Homo sapiens: one gene and its partners. The protein of the gene in region 3 interacts with the protein of the main gene of each other region in a biochemical or structural test. Each region holds a gene or a part of one and is shown on either strand. Other genes may lie near its edges.

What was found.
Region 1: the proteins of EGLN1 (region 3) and IL16 interact in a test that uses a peptide from one of them, tested with the Homo sapiens proteins (one large-scale study listed by IntAct).
Region 2: the proteins of EGLN1 (region 3) and FRMPD2 interact in a test that uses a peptide from one of them, tested with the Homo sapiens proteins (one large-scale study listed by IntAct).
Region 4: the proteins of EGLN1 (region 3) and MAGI3 interact in a test that uses a peptide from one of them, tested with the Homo sapiens proteins (one large-scale study listed by IntAct).

The regions. Positions count from the first base shown.
Region 1 is NC_000015.10:81,296,878-81,301,378, forward strand, and holds part of IL16 (pro-interleukin-16), read left to right. Parts: exon of another isoform or gene 1-50; coding exon 51-201; intron 202-2,426; coding exon of another isoform or gene 2,427-2,470; exon of another isoform or gene 2,471-2,502; coding exon 2,503-3,598; intron 3,599-4,466; coding exon 4,467-4,501. UniProt on the Homo sapiens protein: Interleukin-16 stimulates a migratory response in CD4+ lymphocytes, monocytes, and eosinophils. Primes CD4+ T-cells for IL-2 and IL-15 responsiveness. Also induces T-lymphocyte expression of interleukin 2 receptor. Ligand for CD4.
Region 2 is NC_000010.11:48,240,197-48,244,697, forward strand, and holds part of FRMPD2 (FERM and PDZ domain-containing protein 2), read right to left. Parts: intron 2,157-4,501; coding exon 1,965-2,156; intron 297-1,964; coding exon 164-296; intron 1-163.
Region 3 is NC_000001.11:231,366,748-231,372,251, reverse strand, and holds part of EGLN1 (egl nine homolog 1), read left to right. Parts: intron 1-1,553; coding exon 1,554-1,690; intron 1,691-2,408; exon of another isoform or gene 2,409-2,698; intron 2,699-4,615; coding exon 4,616-4,683; exon of another isoform or gene 4,684-4,685; intron 4,686-5,504. UniProt on the Homo sapiens protein: Cellular oxygen sensor that catalyzes, under normoxic conditions, the post-translational formation of 4-hydroxyproline in hypoxia-inducible factor (HIF) alpha proteins.
Region 4 is NC_000001.11:113,641,014-113,645,514, forward strand, and holds part of MAGI3 (membrane-associated guanylate kinase, WW and PDZ domain-containing protein 3), read left to right. Parts: intron 1-897; coding exon 898-1,503; intron 1,504-2,729; coding exon 2,730-2,761; intron 2,762-4,501.

The DNA.
Region 1 (4,501 bases), on a different chromosome or scaffold from region 3:
AGCTTGAGGCTACCGTTTTGACATGGTCTCGCTTCCTGTTTACACCACAGGAAGCGAGAGAGCTGCTGCCACTGCTGCTACCACAGGAAGACACAGCAGGGAGAAGCCCTAGTGCCTCTGCCGGCTGCCCAGGACCTGGTATCGGCCCACAGACCAAGTCCTCCACAGAGGGCGAGCCAGGGTGGAGAAGAGCCAGCCCAGGTAAGCTTTCATTGAGATCTTCCAAAAGGAAGGGTCTTTTGAAAAAAGGTGCAGGGATAAGATAAGAGCACAAATTGGCCTGAGGATCAGAGTGCTCTGCATTGACATCACCACTGGACCTGGCTGATCAACAGTCAAGGGTTCCAGGTGCTGGGCAGCAGCACCGTGGAGGTGCTGTCCAGGGTGGGGAGCCTCCTGGGTGGACGGGTGATGCTGTGGGGGTGGCAGCAGGAATGCAGGCCATTCTGGATAATTGGGAGGATGGAGCCCTTGGAAGAGGTCCAAAGACACACCCACCCAGCCATCCTGGGCAGCTACCTCTAGGGTGCCAACATTCCAGTTGCAACAGTCCTGCTGCATTCAGGATTTCTGAGTCAGAGAATGCAACGCCAGAAAAGTATAAATAGCATCTACCAGTGGTCACCTCCTCCATGAGGTGGATAGCAAGGGTGTGTCCACATGGTACACCTGACAATGCTAAGACATGACTTGAATATTTATTTGCTTGCTAGAGAGAGCATAGGACTTGAAGTCAGGGAATCCTGGATCTGTCTGTCATTAGTATGATTCTGAGCAACCTACTTTGCCTTTCTGAGCCCAGATTCACTCATCAGCAATGTGTGGAAGAGCACGTAGACCCCAAGCATATGATGCATTCAGCAAGCACACATTGAATGCTGGCTTCGTGAGGCCCTGTGCTAGATGCTGGGGGGAGAGAGAGAAAGGGATGAGACCAGGTAGTCAGGTCCTGCCTCCAAGGAGCAACTAGTAGTGGCAGGAAATAAACATATAGACTATAAAACATATGACTGTTTGAGTAACACTACAGAAAAGCTCATGAAAGACTTTTGGAGGGCTAAGGGACATTTTGGAAAGATCTAGCACATCTCACCCAGAGCAGAGGCCCTGTGGGTGGAGGCTCCTCTCCCTTAGTCACCCTAATTGAGGAACATTCTAGCAAAAGCAAACGCCTCAGTGTTTAACTGACAGGAGGTTGTCACTCCAATCTGCAAAGGGCTTGCCTGTGGAACCTCTGCCTCCTGATTCTCACAACAGCACCTTACAGCCAAGCCATTCAAAAATGCAGAAACAGGCTGGAGGCCTGGGCTCACTTGCCCAAGGCCAGTCTCTTAGATTGTGCAGAATTTCTCTTTGATATCATCAAGGTGTAATGCTCCATGATTCACTTCTTTTGAAACCTGGCATTGAGACAAGGGACAGGAGGGATCAGAGTTCCTTCAACTGGGTTGCGTTCCAGTAGCAAGCATCCCCCAAGGCACACAGGCCAGCCTCCCTCTGCCCCTGGGAAAGAGAGCCAGGACACCCTCTCCCTTACCCATGCAGATATGATGCTGGTTCAATGCTGGCTTCTGAGAAAGACTCCTATGTGCTCCAGGGCATGCCTGAGGTCCTGGCTGGCACAGAGCAGGTTGCACATTGCAATCCCCTGCTCATCACATTCCCAACACCCAGGCTGCATCCCAGGTATCTTCAGTCAGTACCTAGGGGTGGGCGTCAGTATTTTTCAGGGCCCTCCAGATTCCAGTATGTAGCCAAGGTGGAGAATCCTACTTCACAGATTCCTTTCTACCTGGAACCTTTTCATCAGCTTTTGAGGGAGGGAAAACACTCCTTTGCCGAGAGCAAGCTGATCAATGACCTGTGTATAGGCAGAGCAGCAAACACACGGCTTCAGGGCCAGGCAGGTACATACATGGGAAATGCTGGCTGGGTGAGAGGGAGCGTGAAGAGCTGTGGGAAGCCGAAGTGGCCCCATCAGAAGCTGTGCACAGGCACCTTGTTTTTAATGACACGGGTAGGTCAAAGCACAAACAGCTGCCAACTCATGACCTTTGTCTTAAAAGTTTAAACGGCAGGAGAACTGCTTTGGCTTTTACACATTTAACATGGTATCTTGGAGGCTCCTTAGTGCAGTAGAAAGGACATGAACTTCAAGAGTCAGGAGACACAGGGTCTTGCCTGAGCACTGCCATCAGATGGCCCCTTACCCTTCTTGAAATGTAATATGCCAGAGGTCGGCCCAGATATTCTCTGAGCACCCTTCCAGGCCTAAAACACTAGGATACTGTGAGATTAACTCCTACTTCTGGTCCTTCACTCCTGCCTGTTGGCAGCTCAGTCAGGTAATAGCACCTGGAGTTCACCCACCTGGGTGTCCCCCACTTCTGCTAATCTCCTCCTCTTGAATCCTTCTTGCTGTTCAGCTTGGAAACTAGAATTTAGGAAGAAAAGTCACTGTATGATGTAATGCACAGCTTTGGCCTTGTTTCTGCACTGTAGTGACCCAAACATCCCCGATAAAACACCCACTGCTTAAGAGGCAGGCTCGGATGGACTATAGCTTTGATACCACAGCCGAAGACCCTTGGGTTAGGATTTCTGACTGCATCAAAAACTTATTTAGCCCCATCATGAGTGAGAACCATGGCCACATGCCTCTACAGCCCAATGCCAGCCTGAATGAAGAAGAAGGGACACAGGGCCACCCAGATGGGACCCCACCAAAGCTGGACACCGCCAATGGCACTCCCAAAGTTTACAAGTCAGCAGACAGCAGCACTGTGAAGAAAGGTCCTCCTGTGGCTCCCAAGCCAGCCTGGTTTCGCCAAAGCTTGAAAGGTTTGAGGAATCGTGCTTCAGACCCAAGAGGGCTCCCTGATCCTGCCTTGTCCACCCAGCCAGCACCTGCTTCCAGGGAGCACCTAGGATCACACATCCGGGCCTCCTCCTCCTCCTCCTCCATCAGGCAGAGAATCAGCTCCTTTGAAACCTTTGGCTCCTCTCAACTGCCTGACAAAGGAGCCCAGAGACTGAGCCTCCAGCCCTCCTCTGGGGAGGCAGCAAAACCTCTTGGGAAGCATGAGGAAGGACGGTTTTCTGGACTCTTGGGGCGAGGGGCTGCACCCACTCTTGTGCCCCAGCAGCCTGAGCAAGTACTGTCCTCGGGGTCCCCTGCAGCCTCCGAGGCCAGAGACCCAGGTGTGTCTGAGTCCCCTCCCCCAGGGCGGCAGCCCAATCAGAAAACTCTCCCCCCTGGCCCGGACCCGCTCCTAAGGCTGCTGTCAACACAGGCTGAGGAATCTCAAGGCCCAGTGCTCAAGATGCCTAGCCAGCGAGCACGGAGCTTCCCCCTGACCAGGTCCCAGTCCTGTGAGACGAAGCTACTTGACGAAAAGACCAGCAAACTCTATTCTATCAGCAGCCAAGTGTCATCGGCTGTCATGAAATCCTTGCTGTGCCTTCCATCTTCTATCTCCTGTGCCCAGACTCCCTGCATCCCCAAGGAAGGGGCATCTCCAACATCATCATCCAACGAAGACTCAGCTGCAAATGGTTCTGCTGAAACATCTGCCTTGGACACAGGGTTCTCGCTCAAGTGAGTTTCTACACCCGGTGTTTCTCTTTACCTTTCTCATCTTTTTCTTTCTCATCTTTATTTTTAAAAATAATCCTATATATAATTTAAAAAATTCCCAGATATATTGATTAAAGAATTGTTCTGCCTCTTTCTTTCCATGTGTGTGCAGATGTCTGAGTGTGTGTGTGTCTGTCTGTAGGTATTACACCTCTGCCTTTCACATTAAGGAGGAGTTTTCACAACATCTGGCTTCAGGAGGGCTGGGAGGTAGGAGGTGGGACTGGCTCCCTGGTGAATTGCTCATGAGGGCTGACATACGCCTGTGGAGATTTGGAAGGTTGATGCACATCTGAAATGTCCTGCGGTTACTCAGAAAGACCAGAATGAGGCCAGGAAATTATCCATCAGGAATTCTTACTCTCCAAATGGAATCCACTTGTACTCTGCACGTGGGTTCAACTCCCTCGTCAGGGAGTTAGGATGTCTGGGTCCTAGTCTCAGCTTAGGCACTGATTCTGACTATGAGCAGGTTCTTTCCATGCTCACCCTCAGATTCCTTGTCAGTTGAAATTAGGAGATGGATGAGACCTTCTATGCAGAACCAAGAGGATGTCAGACGTGCCATAGGGTCCCTGCTGTAGGGCTGGGGCTTGGTCTTCCCTCTGATCAAAGTAGCTCTGCATTTATTAGTTTTATTTATTATTCTTACACTGCTGGGAAATATCTGTAGAGTGAAGGTATGCTAGTATCTACTCATAGATTTGTTGCATCAAATAATATGCACATAAGTGCTTGGCACCACACCTGGGACATAGTAATTATACAATCACTGTTACCTCTTTTTAATATTGTTGTTCATACTGTGTGTTGTTTCTCCTTATGAAAGCCTTTCAGAGCTGAGAGAATATACAGAGGGTCTCA
Region 2 (4,501 bases), on a different chromosome or scaffold from region 3:
GAGTCCTAAGCTCAGCCCCTTCTCTTCAGGGGCTTCCTGAAAGAGTGGCACTTACATAGGCTTTCTCTGCCATCACAATGTGGATGTGTAGCCCATACAGGGCAGGAAAAAATAGAATGGGTACCATCAGCCCACGCAGGGACTGCTTAGGGCACGTACCCACCTCTGCAAGGATGCAGACACTCCGGGGCCTGTGCCGCTGGGCTCTCGCTGCTTGTCCCACGCAGCCTCTTCCTGAGCAGGTAGCTTCTGTTCTGCTGCACAGAGGAGCTTTCCTCCACAACTCTTTTCTCCACCTGGGGGTCAAGTGCATCACACATCCACATCCCAAGATAAGGAGGGGGCGTTTTTATAGATACATGCAAACTGGCTGTCAGACTGAATCAATGTGGAATTGTCTGCCCTATACGGTGACCTAAAGATGTGTTCTCTGGCACCCAGAATGTGCTCTGTGCCCACCCCCTGCATGCACCCTGAAGGCACTTCACTCCCCACTCCAGACCTGCACACTCACACACATCTGTGCCTTTGCTCATGCATTCCCTCCATGGCTACAGCCTCCCCAGAAGCTCCTCTGTGCCCACAAGACCCAGAGCTGTGTGCTTTCTACTTCTAAGCCTCTCTACCTCTGCCGTCTGATCACCTTCCCTTATCACTGCACTCACACCTGGCTCTGTTGCATCATGTTCCATGAGTGTGCTGCTTGTCTGTCTCCCCCAACATCTCTGTGTGCTTTATGCACCACCGTAGCACACCTAATGCAGTGCCCAATGAATGTTGAATACGTGACTGACATCTACCTTGCAGATCCCTGACGGAAATGTTGCAGGTCAGTACACTGTCTATCCAAGGACAATGGCACACCAGTGGATGGTAGACCTCAGTATCTTTCAAATAAATATAGTCCATTTCCCCCACCAAATCCTCTGGCTCAATTCATAGGAGCCACATGTTCCTATGCCAAGAGAGAAGGGGTCCAAGAAGGAGGCCTTCTCTGATGGCAGAGGCCTTCTCTGATTGACTGTTGCCGCTGTCCACCCTGCTGTCCCCACATCTCCATCCACTTTGGCCCTCATTAATCCTGCTCTCAGCTCTCCAACTTGTCCCTGGACAAGTGCAGCCACTCAACTGGCCTCTAGCTTACCTGTCTCTGGTTCCTCCCAAATACAAACTTCCTTACATTTTGTGCCATAGGCACCTCACTTGCCCATCCTATCCCAGCTCCACTCAGGTCTCATGGGGGACCAACTCCATGGTGCCATTCCTGCAACAGAGCTCCCCAGGGGGCCAGGCTGGGCCTGTCTCCAGCTGAGACTATATCCTTCAACTTGTCAGCTGTACTACCATCACTCCCCTCTCCCAGGAACATTTCCCCAGTAAATAACTTGCACAAGAATCCCTGTCTCTGGGTTAGCTTGGAGGGAATCCAACCTAAGCCAAATGCCTCCCATGTGCCAGGCCCCTTGCTGCACTCTGTGGAGTGCACAGGGCAGCAAGCAGCACAGTGTGACAAGCACAACAAAGGACACCCCACAGGTATAAAATAGCAGAGGGGAGGGTACCCAGGGACCACAAAAACGAAGTCGGGGAAGGCTTCTGTGCAGAACCTAGAGTTGAATTTTGATAAGAAAACTGAATCATGGGTTCTAAACATTATTGCTTTATGTAAGGACGCACTTGCAAAGATGTCAAGGGTCTTAGCCATGTGACAAACTGGGGCTTGCCTAAAGGTCTTTGTTAGCACTGCCCAATAGAACTGCAATGACAAGAATGTTCTAGATCCACCCTGTTCAATAGGGTCATCACCTGCTACGAGTGGCAACGGAGCACTTGAAATGTGACAGATGTGACTGATTAATTTAATTTTTTATTTTATTTTAGTTAATGATAATATAACTAATTCAAATTTTAATAGCCACACATGACCAGCAGCTACTGCTTGAAAAGCACGGTTCTCTACTGACCTCAGAAATGGTACCCAGAACCAAGCCAACCAGCCTTCTGATGTGGAGACCAGCAGGGGCTGGGTAGACAGACACTTCTTTCTCATGAACCCGACAAGCTTCCAGAACCGACTGCAACGTGCACCGCCTGTGAGGCTGGTCTTCACACATGGTCAGCAGGATGGAGTGCAGGGGCTCGCAGAGCTGCAGGGGCTGGAGGCAGACAGGGCCGGTGAGAGGAGAGAGCAGCCAGAGCTGCCACTACGAGGCCAGCACCTTGTCAGGCAGGCCTTGGAGACATGGAAACGGGTGTTCCCACAAGCACCAGAGCAGATGCCTGCCCCTTCTGGAGAGTTTAAGGACAGACACAAGATCCATCACTGAGGCCGCAAAGTGCGGAGCAATCATCTCTGCAGCAATTCTGTGTTGTCTGCTGCTTTCTAAACCAGAACATCCTTCTGCCCAAGCACATGCTTGGAATGCTCATGAAAACTAGATGCTTTGACAAGATGGATTTCCACCTGTGCCAAGCACCCCAAATCAAACCAGAGGTCAGCCTTTCACTCAAGTTCACCTGCGTAGCTTGTCATTGTATCCAATCACTCAGGGGGTCTCACTTGGCCTTTCCCCTGGAATGTGAGCTCCTGGAACATACAGACTGTGGCCTATTCCTGTTCACTTCGGAACAGCCAGCAGTCAGCACAAATGCTCAATCGTTGTTGGTTGAACTTTATGTCACGTGTACACATCGAGCAAAAGAAAACAGAAGCATCTTATAAGCATTTCCCTCATGCATTTAAATGACCACAATTCATAGGAGAAAGTCCTCAAATTCAGATTCAAAATCAGACTTTTTCTCAAGCTCAACACACACTGCAGGTCACTTTCCAGATAAAGGCTGCACTACCGCTTCTTGCTGGGGAGCATCAGCTGTGAGCACCTATCTCTGTGTACAGCCAAGCTGCTGAGTCCTGCCGTCACAGTAAATCCAGGCGTCTTTTGTGCCTGGTGCTGCACAGCCACACCAGATACAGTCCCTGCCTTCAGGAAAATAATGGTGTGATGAGAGAGACGGTCACTAAAAGAGACAAAGACCATAGAGGATGACAAGGACTTTCACCTTGGGAAGCACAGGCCATGGCACTAATGTAGAGGAAGGGGCTTAGCCAAGGCTAGAGTTAACCAAGAGGAAAGTGGGGAGTGAGGTGCTGGTGAAGGGATCCGTGTGTACAAAGGCACGAAGATGCAGATGAGCTGACATGCATCTGAAGGGAAGGGGATTATGAGCAGGACAGGGGCCTGGGGGAAAATAGCAATGTGGGGTCCCTTGTTCAAAATTATTAAGAATTCCAGGACAGTGATAGCAGAGCATTAAACTAAGTGCAGGACCCTGTGCTATGACACAGGGTCACACACTCAGGACACACACCCAGGAAGCCGGTCCTGATTATGGCAGAGTGCCAAAGGGGAACCAGACGGGAGCAGGGACCCTATCCTAGGCTCCAGGTGTGTCTCACTGAGAAGTCAGAAGGCAACCCCACGGCCAGTGAGGCGTTACAAAAGGTTGCATGTGAGAGTGGTCGTGAGCTGGTCTCTTAGAAAGACCACCCAGGAAGAGCCCGGATGTTGAATTGGAGAGGGTCGGGGTGAGTAGAAAGAAAGGCAGGAAGGAAGGGAGGAGGAGGGAGGGATCCAGTCTAGCCAGGTCAGCTAGGCAGGGCTCTCCAGCAGGTGTTCTTGTGGCACCAGTCTCTAAGGAATTGTTATAGTATCAGATGGAAATGTACACAAACACTTCTATTCTGTAGTTGAAAATTGTGTAAAATATTAGGATATTTTTATGTAGTTCTTTTTTGAGACAGGGTTTTGCTCTGTTGCCCAGGCTGGAGTGCAGTGGTTTGATCTCCACTCACTTCAACCTTCCCCTCCCGGCCCCCGGGGTTTAAGCGATTCTCATGCCTCAGCCTCCCAAGTAGCTGGGACTATAGGCATACACCACCACACCCAGCTAATTTTTTTATTTGTAGTAGAGACAGGGTTTTGCCATGTTGGCCAGGCTTGTCTCGAACTCCTGAGCTCAAGTGGTCTCCCCACCTCAGCCTCCCAAAGTGCTGGGACTATAGGCGTGAGCCACCATGGCCAGCCAGGATAAAGTTAAGTTTCTAAGCTTTAAGCCTTCTTGTAGTTTTTAAAAAATGACTCTAAAAAATCTTTGAGAGGGAGATATTGTAGGGAGCATTTACCCAAATCTATTGAGCCCAGAAGCCTTTTTCAGGGAAGCATCTCACTTTGGGAAGGGTTGTTTTAAAGCCTTTTTAAAATATATGTAAATCTGTATCTTCAGTGTCTATAAAATTCTCTAGCTTGCTATTAATACTTCCTCTGAGCGGAGATGGCCAAACTTATCCTGCTTGCCAGTCCCAAATTGTGGCTGCCTGGAGTGCTATGTTGAGTGGGATTCTGAGGTTGTTTCTGCACTAGCAGGAAGGAGTTGTGTGATAAGTTCTCAACGCCTGCCTAGGACCTAGAGGACGGGAGAGTGGCATTATGTGTGCTCA
Region 3 (5,504 bases):
TATTGGAGGATACAGATCAGAAAGATTGACAGTTACAGATAGTTATGCAAAGTGTCAAGACAGATTGCTATGGAGCACACAGGAGGGCCACCTAATTCAGAGGAGGAAGAGTGGAAGTGTCAAGTAGCCATTTCACTTAAAACATTTTCAGCAGGTCACCTGTGGTACTCCCAATGACTTGAGTCAAAGGGAAGGGAGCAGGAAAAAAGGAAAGAAGACATGTTCTCAGTTTGGAGGTTCTTTAGATGTTTGCATAGTAGCCTGGGGAATCACTCTGAACAACACTGGAACCTGAGGAAGGTTGGCAAGGGTATCAAAGTAGCTAGAATTTAACTTACCTGACAGTGAGCCTGATAAACCTTTTCTTTAACTATAGATTCTAGGTTTAGGCTCAAACGCCATGTTGTCCTGACCAGGTGTTAGAGTTTCTTTAAATTTTAAGAGTCTACCTGCTTAGGAGTGTAGTTATTCAAGAGTAAGGAGCTACTTGGTTGGTTGGGTTTTGCCTATCCCCAGATCGTAAACCCCGCAAGGACAAAGTCTGTCTGCATTATTCCCTACTCTGCACCCAGAGCCCACCACAGTTCCCAGTGCGATTTGATGCCTAGTTGGTGTTTAGGTAAATAATAATCCTTTATGGGTAGAATCAAGTTTCACAAGCAGGTAGTCATCTGTGCATCAGGCCCAGTCTGGAAAGGGAGAGCCACAGGTTCTAATGAACTATATGCTGATGGTGATGGTGACGACGACAATAATGATGGTCATAATAAATGATGACACTTTCTACTGATATACTGAATTATTTAAGTAAGAGGTATTTGTGACTATCCTATTGTTTATTGAATTTTAAAGTATGGTAAACTATTTGACATAATTTATTTCTAATAATAATTTTGTCAAAATTTCTTGAAATCTATCTATTTGAAGGGTGGGTTAAGCAAATCATTAACATACAAAAATAAACGTTTAGTAGTTTTAAAAGCTTTCAAGCATCATTTTAAGACTTTTAAATTCAGATAACATTCTTGTGTTTCATCAGATATTTATAAAAATCCCTAAAATGGCTGGGGACAGTGGCTCACACCTGTAATACCAGCACTTTGGGAGGCCGAGGTGGGCAGATCACCTGAGGTCAGGAGTTCGAGTCCAGCCTGGCCAACATGGTGAAAACCCATCTCTACTAAAAATGCAAAAATTAGCTGGACATGGTGGCGCATGCCTGTAATCCCAGCTACTCGCGATGCTGAGACAGGAGAATTGCTTGAACCTAGGAGGCGGAGGTTGCAGTGAGCTGAGATTGTGCCACTGCACTCCAGCCTGGGTGACAGCGAGACTCCATCTCAATAAATAAATAAATATCCCTAAAATAAGAACTAAATTTGTCCTTGCATCAGTGCATATACTTTTAAAATTGCAGCTCATCTTCATACTTTATTGAGACGTATTTGTGAATAATCCAATTAAGACATTGAAATTGTCTCTTTTTTTCCCCCTAAATTTAATCTTGTAGCATTTTTGGTTACTCCTGCTTACATATTTGGCTCTTTTCCTAGGTAAGTGGAGGTATACTTCGAATTTTTCCAGAAGGCAAAGCCCAGTTTGCTGACATTGAACCCAAATTTGATAGACTGCTGTTTTTCTGGTCTGACCGTCGCAACCCTCATGAAGTACAACCAGCATATGCTACAAGGTAGTATTCCTTTTCAGAAAAAATTGGTTTAGAGTATGGTAGGACAGGAGGGAATCTGTAGAGTAAACGTGAAAGCTTTCTAATGAGTATTTTCCTGCCAGGTACTTTTCACAGTCATTTTAATTTGAATAATTGTATAAGATTTATGTTGCACAGTCATCTGAATTCAAATAATTATATAAGACTCATTAACAGTTAGTACTAAATGTGTCTTTCTTTGCACAGCCACTCTGAAGAAAGGGAAGCACAGGCCTTCCCATCTTTCTAGCACTCTCTCCGTGCTTTGTGCATCTCTTAACTACTATCCATGCTTTGATTTTTGTAAGAGTATTTTACTTGGGAGAGAGAAAGATCAAGAAGGAAAAGGGTTTTTTAAAAGGTGGTGAGGGACAACATAGGAAAATGGATACAGAGTAGAAAAATCAGAGGTAACCAGAGAGTAGAAGTGAAGAGAAAAACAGAAGAAAGAAAAGTAGAGAACAGGTTACCATGTGTGGGAGTTAATGTTAGAAAAATGATCCTATTAGCTTTACAAATAATGAGCATCTGTTTCATTATACTTTTTCTACAAGGTATTTGCAACCTATTATATTTAGTGCTTTATTTCAAATGCTTTTTTAAAAACCATTTATCCTGACTCAATTAAAATGCTCTGGCTGTGAAAACAAGATATTGTAGACATTATCATGAAAGTAAATATTTGTAGAAAAATAGCACATTAAAAAAAAATACTTATTTTTTATTATGGAAAGGTCTTGGAACATTCTGATAGTGAGCTTCCGGCATTCATTTGCTGTATCTGGCTTAGGAGATGCTAGGGTGGCAAGAAGAGGCACAGGCTTAGATGCGCTGGGTGGAGAGTTGGCTTTAGTAATGATGGTTGACTCTAACGACTTGATTATCAGCTGTGCCTTTTTTCTTCCTGCCTTCTGAGGTGTGTTGCCTGCATCCTAATTCACGTACTGAGTAGCAAGCTAAGCAGGTTGTAGCTGGAGATTGTAAGAAATCCTGAATGGAAACCAAAGAAAGACTGTCACATCACATGATGTGCCCTTTTCAATCCCATGTCTCTTCCCAGTGGCATCCCAGTGCTGTCTCTGCCCCCTGCTGCTTCTGTAAAGATTTTCTGACACAGTAACTGCCTCATAGACCTTCCTTTTTATGAAATCCTGAGTTTGGTTTGGTTACGTCCTTTTTAGATGAATAAATAACAGATACTTGGGAGTTTATAGTAAATAAATGCCAGATGGCATGGAGGCTAAGTGCTACAGGAGTTGAGGAACGAAGGTGGTGCTACATTGGAGAGACGGGCAAGTGCGCTTTGAAGGGAGAGGCTCAGCTGGCCTAGGTGAGGAGAGGCAAGGGGTGCAGTCGTGTTAGTAAAGTTCTGGGGGAAAAGGCGTAGTTGTTCAAGTTAAGGCATGGAAAATCATGCGACGAAAAGGATTCTTGAAGTAGAATCCTATTCTGATCTTATCTAGAATGGGTGATAAGGCTGGAAAGTTAGAATGACATAAGGTAAGTTGTTGATCCAGATATTAGAATTCTGATTGCTAAGTGACTAAAAGTTTAGGGCATGGGCAAAAGATACATAAAATTATGTATCTGAGCCCTTTCCTATTTCCAAGGCCACCCAAAAGTAGAAGAAGCCACATGGTAAGAAAGGTAGTGGAACTCTGGAAAGAGCAGAGTCTGGTCTGGAAGTCAGGAGACCTCCTTAGACCTCAGCTCTGTGATTCACCAGTGGTGGGGTCTGTAAACGTCAGGCTCCCAGTTGTCCAAACTCCCAGACTCTTTACTTCAAAATACATTATGTGATTTTTCATTCTGTCATATTACTGGCTGTATGTCTGATAAATGTTGCCTTTTCCCCTGTGTCCACTGGCCACAATCCACAATATATTTGAACTAATTGCTATATTCTGCCCAGGAACTGGTGATTTGTAGCGTACTTTCACTTCCTATAGCGTTTATACATTTTCCCCATTATTTGTATCAGAAAGTATGTCTTTTGTAGTATTTAATAAACTAGAGATGCCTCACTTATTGGTGGAATGAAATATTCTAAGTCAGATTTTCAGAAAAATGAAGTTTAGACAAAGTTTAAACACAAAACACAGTATAATTGCTTTGATTAAAATCCTTAAAAATTCTTAGCATAATTTAACTGTCAAGGTTATAATTGTAAACATCCATCATTACTCTTTGCTATAATGTAGTGATGTCCCCAGAGACTGTTGAAACTGTTAGCCTGCAATGCCCTGAGTCCTTTTATCTGTTTCTTTTCTGTTCTTTTAGTACTTGTGCTATTGATAATGTGCTTTTTCTGTAACAGCCATTCTTTTACCCTTTTATTGTCTCTCTTTTTTTTTAGAGGGAGGCTCACTCTGTCACCTAGGCTGGAGTGCAGTGGCATGATCTCGGCTCACTGCAACCTCCGCCTCCCCGGGTTCAAGCGATTCTCCTGCCTCTCAGCCTCCTGAGTAGCTAGGGCTACAGGCATGTGCCACCATGCACGGCTAATTTTTTTTTTCTTTTTTTTAGTAGAGATGGGGTTTCACCCTATTGGCCAGGTTGGTCTCGAAGTCCTGACTTCATGATCCACCCACTTCGGCCTCCCGAAGTGCTGGGATTACAGGCGTGAGCCACTGTGCCCGGCCTATTGTCTCTTTCTGATCTGCAGTTCCCTTGCAAAAAATAAGTAGTTGAAATAAGTATTAAGAAAGTCACAAAAACTCATCAACTTCAGACATCAATTTTAGTCTCCCCTGGTTACTGTATAAATAAGCTGTTAAATTTATCCTTTGATATCATTCCAGTTTAGGCATAATTTTGGCATTACAAGTTTTAATATACCATTGCAGCAAAATACCACTTTTTCCCCGCAGTGTGATCATTCTTATCCTATTCTAAATTTTCTTTTAGGTACGCAATAACTGTTTGGTATTTTGATGCAGATGAGAGAGCACGAGCTAAAGTAAAATATCTAACAGGTAAACGTCATTTGGGGCCAGGATATATTGGTACAGAAATACCCTGCAATCAGGTGATGCTTTCAGGAAACTCAAGCATAGTCTTTGTTAACACCATGAATACTTACTTTTTGTTTTTTATCAGATTTCTTATTTGCCTCATTTTTTAAGAAGACATAAGTCATCTTCACTGTTATCTTTAACCAAAAAAATTGTCAAAGGATGTGGAAAATTTGAGGCAAAGAAGTCTGAGTAAATTATTCACATACAAACTGAGTTTTCTGTGATTATCCTTTTCAGTCAAAGGCCACTTAACTCTAGGTAACGGCCATATGGTTTCCTCTCATTCACTCCTTAAATTAATACCCTTTCCTTTTCAAATGGATGTGCTCTAAACAGTACTCTAGGTCTTCCATGTTAAATGTAGACATGAAGAAAATTAATACAAAGAATTATGAATTCAAATGCCAAAATCAGTAAATGACACAGACATGTAGATTCCATATCTGCTAATGGTGTACATAGGTCAGCACTCTTGTACTGAACCTGAAGATCCTTTAATTATGCCAGTTCCCCTTCTCTTCCACTTATGGACTGCCTCTCCAAGAGCAGGGGGTCTGTTTCCCATCTGATGGACCACTTACCTTCTTTTCTTTAACTCTACTTTCTATCTCCAAAAATCCACTGAGTATTCACATTACTGATTAGCTGTGTTTTCCAGAGCCATTGCTAATCGCACGTCGACCTTACATAAAAATGGAATATTCATGCATTTTCTATGTATTTTTAAAGCCATTATTTGTGGCACAAGCTCAGTGTGCTTTCAGAGACACTGAACACTC
Region 4 (4,501 bases), about 120 Mb from region 3:
TGATATATAATATATATGATATATATAATATATATGATATATTATATATGATATATATAATATATATGAGATATATATTATATATATGATATATAAATATATATGAGATATATATTATATATATGATATATAAATATATATGAGATATATATAAATCTATATATATATCAGGGGTGGAGGAGGATTTCTGGCTATAGGGGCTATAGGAACTTGACAGGATTCTTGCTGAATGCAGGCTGAGGTGATCAGGTAATCACCTGGAGAATGGTGGGGAATGAGGACTTAGATCATATATCAAGAGTGGGTGATTCTGGCTAAACCAACTTAGCAGGATTCCTGCTAAAGCTGGGCTCTGGAGGACATGCCAAGGATGAGGCCTACTGAAAAAAGAGCTCAGAGGAACCTGTCTAGAGTTTGGTTAAGGACAGCGTCTTTTTCAGTGTATGTATATATACATACATACAGATATATAAATAAAATTAATTTATTCAAAAAATATAATACAGTTTGTACAAGTAGTCAGTGGAGTTATTTGCTTCTGTACTAAATACCTACTGCAATGTGCCTAGCTTTGCATGGATACTTAGATATGACTCAGAGGGTATACTAACAATGATAATATAAATTATCAGGGTTTTTTTTTTAATGATTCACTTGAGCTTGAAGTCAAAATTCTTTGCTACTGAAATAAGTAGGATTTTAGACATTTATACATACATTTTAGAGAGGAGTTAGAAAAGGGAGAAGGTCTGTGTTAGAAATCTATCTTTTCAGCAGTTAATAGAGGTTTCCAAAATTCAAATTTAGTTGCTAAATTGTAGTTATTTTTGCCCCTCTAGCAAAAAAATTAACTTATTTGTTGATTTTAATATTTTTAACATGATTATGTTTTTCCAGGCGATGTTATTGTAGACATCAATGGCAACTGTGTCCTCGGTCACACTCATGCAGATGTTGTCCAGATGTTTCAATTGGTACCTGTCAATCAGTATGTAAACCTCACTTTATGTCGTGGTTATCCACTTCCTGATGACAGTGAAGATCCTGTTGTGGACATTGTTGCTGCTACCCCTGTCATCAATGGACAGTCATTAACCAAGGGAGAGACTTGCATGAATCCTCAGGATTTTAAGCCAGGAGCAATGGTTCTGGAGCAGAATGGAAAATCGGGACACACTTTGACTGGTGATGGTCTCAATGGACCATCAGATGCAAGTGAGCAGAGAGTATCCATGGCATCGTCAGGCAGCTCCCAGCCTGAACTAGTGACTATCCCTTTGATTAAGGGCCCTAAAGGGTTTGGGTTTGCAATTGCTGACAGCCCTACTGGACAGAAGGTGAAAATGATACTGGATAGTCAGTGGTGTCAAGGCCTTCAGAAAGGAGATATAATTAAGGAAATATACCATCAAAATGTGCAGAATTTAACACATCTCCAAGTGGTAGAGGTGCTAAAGCAGTTTCCAGTAGGTGCTGATGTACCATTGCTTATCTTAAGAGGAGGTAAGTAAAAGCACAACATAGAAAAAGTTTCAGTGTTCAAGCGTTTATATCTACTGATTGTCTTTCCTTACAGTTTAGAATGTGTTTTCCCAGCAGACTTAACTAGTAATTAGTGTGCATTTTCCTTAAGGTTCTGTCTGATTGTTTCCATAAGCAGTGTCTTTTTCAGCAGTTTTTAAAAAATTATTAGTGATTTCATTCATGTCCATTATGGATTTATTTCCCTCTGTATTCTTTTGAAAATCTGATTCATGGCTTTAATGATTAGAGAGAGTCACAGCATTGTGATACTTCAAATGAAATACATCCTCTTAATTTCATTTCTCTGTTGATGACAGTAATAGAAATTGACTCTTTCAACCAATGGTGTGTCATCTGGACCTCTGTAATGCACCAAAGATGTTTTGAAAGAGCTAGCATCTCTGTGGATAAGTAAAATGTTGGATGGTGTATTAATCTGTTCTGCAGAGGCAATCATGATAGCATGTGCTCATAAAGTTTTCATCTTAAGCTCTAGTATCTGACTGTAAATGTTAATTAAACCACACAGTGCTTATGTGAGAGAAATATAATTTTTATTTTCCAAGGTCATCAGCTGACATGAACTCCTCCCAGACATTTACAAATTCAGTTCCAAGGAATAATCACAAAGTTGAATTTTAATATGCTTTCTTAAATCCATACTTATAAGTGACTAGTATCTTAAAGAATAAAAGCCACTTACTCTTTTATCTCTCTGGATTTTACTTTTCACTATTGAGGCAAACGAGCACTTCAGCTTCTTTGGGAGTTGTTTCTTATTCTCGTTTCTTTGATTCACATGGGTTTCTTCTCTGAGTGATGGTGGAATGTGCTCCAAGTAAGGTAGAAATCTCTTTGTGAGTGCTTGAGAGTAATCCAGGGCTTCAACAAGTATAACAAAGACACCAAAGTTCAATGTCACACAGGTTTGATGTCAGTTTCCTGCCTTGCCACTTACTGGTTCTTTGGTATAGGAAAGAATCTTAGTTTACCTTCTCTGTAAGATGGTCATAACATTTGTGCCTTCAGATTGTTATAAAAATGAAATGAGATAATATATGTATAATGCCTGGTACATAGGAGGTTAGACACAGAATTTACTAGCGTACTAAAAGTTGAAGCTAGTTTTATCGTAAACATTAGCAGTATTTGTGATCTGGGAATGCATCCTCTGGTTTTAAACTTTGGTTCATTTTTTTTTTAAGGTCCTCCTTCACCAACCAAAACTGCCAAAATGGTGAGTATACACTGGTCCTCAAATCTTTTCCCCAACACACTGAGAGAGATGCCACATTCCCCTCTGTAAGAGGAGCTCACTGTGGTGATGATTATCGACTGGGAGAAGTTAGGAGGCATGCTGCCCTTGGCTTGTATTTATTAGAAACTAGGGAAGCGTTTGAAAAAGCCCCCTAGTGAGGAGATGTGCTCCACTGGTTAAGTATTGCAACTGGAGGATTACTAAAGGCCTATTGTACCAATAATCCTGTTCTCTAAGTTATAAAATGTGAACACATTAAAGAACCAACCTAGAGGTCTTTTTACTTTTGTGTTTCAGAGAAACAAGGTAGGAAGGACCTAAATGTTAAGACAGATGATAAACTATTACATCGTCTTGCCCCTGCCTGAAGAGAAGACGTACTAGTTCACATAATTTTGTGGGGACTATAAATATGCATGCACCTTTAGATAATCTTCTTACTTTTAAGACTAAATTAGGCTTATTTTTTTATTATTTATTTTTTATTTATTTATTTATTTTTTGAGACGGAGTCTTGCTCTGTCGCCCAGGCTGGAGTGCAGTGGCGCTATCTCGGCTCACTGCAACCTCCGCCTCCGGGGTTCAAGCGATTCTCCTGCCTCAGCCTCCCAAGTAGCTGGGACTACAGGTGCACGCCACCACACCCAGCTAATTTTTTTGTATTTTTAGTAGAGACAGGGTTTCACCATGTTGGCTAGGATGGTCTCAATCTCTTGACCTCATGATCTGCCCGCCTCGGCCTCCCAAAGTGCTGGGATTACAGGCATGATACACCACGTCCGGCTGACTAAACAAGACTTTCTAGAGTAATTGTGGCCTTCTATGCTAAATTTGCTTGTTGTCAAAGTGAAAGACCTGAAACAGTGTCTTCTTTGGCATTCTTCTAAATAATCACGTAGCCTGTTTAAGGACCTGTGCAGAGAATAAGAACTTTAAAAAGGAGTGCATCAAATGCTGCTGTTGTGGAAGAAACTCTACAAGGTGCACATTTGTAGCTATTTAAATATCCACAATGTTTTGGATATAAAGACAATTTTATTTAAAATTCTAATTTAGTTCTAGTTTGCTCCTTTGGAGTCTTTTATCTCAAAATCAAAAGATGGCCTTCCATAACCATAAACTATAGACAATTATATTAAATGAATTAGTTCTTTCTAGCCCACCAAGTAGGAATCCTCTGCAAATTTGCTGTTTTATAGATTAAAAAGAATCCCTCAGCTTCTGGCCTTTTTTTTTTTTTTTTTTTTGAGACAGAGTCTCACTCCATCACCCAGGCTGGAATGCAGTGGTGTGATTTTGGCTCACTGCAGCCTCTGCCGCCTAGGTTCAAGCAATTCTTGTGCCTTAGCCTCCCAGTAGCTGGAATTACAGGTGCACGCCACCACACGCAGCTAATTTTTATATTTTTGGTAGAGATGGAGTTTCACTACATTGGCTAGGCTGGTCTCAAATTCCTGACCTCAGGTGATCTGCCCACCTCGGCCTCCCAAAGTGCTGGGATTACAGGCATGAGCCACTGCGCCCGGCCAGCTTCTGCCCTTTTCATTGACTGCTTATACTACTTGGGTCCAGTGTGAACAGAAATTGTTTTTGTCCATTCAGTTCAAATTGCACTGTATTCTACATTTCTCTGGTTCCTCTAGTAATCATTTTTAACTCCTGTGCCACCATATTTATTTCATAATGGATGCCACTGCAGTCGCAGTGGCCCTAATGCTT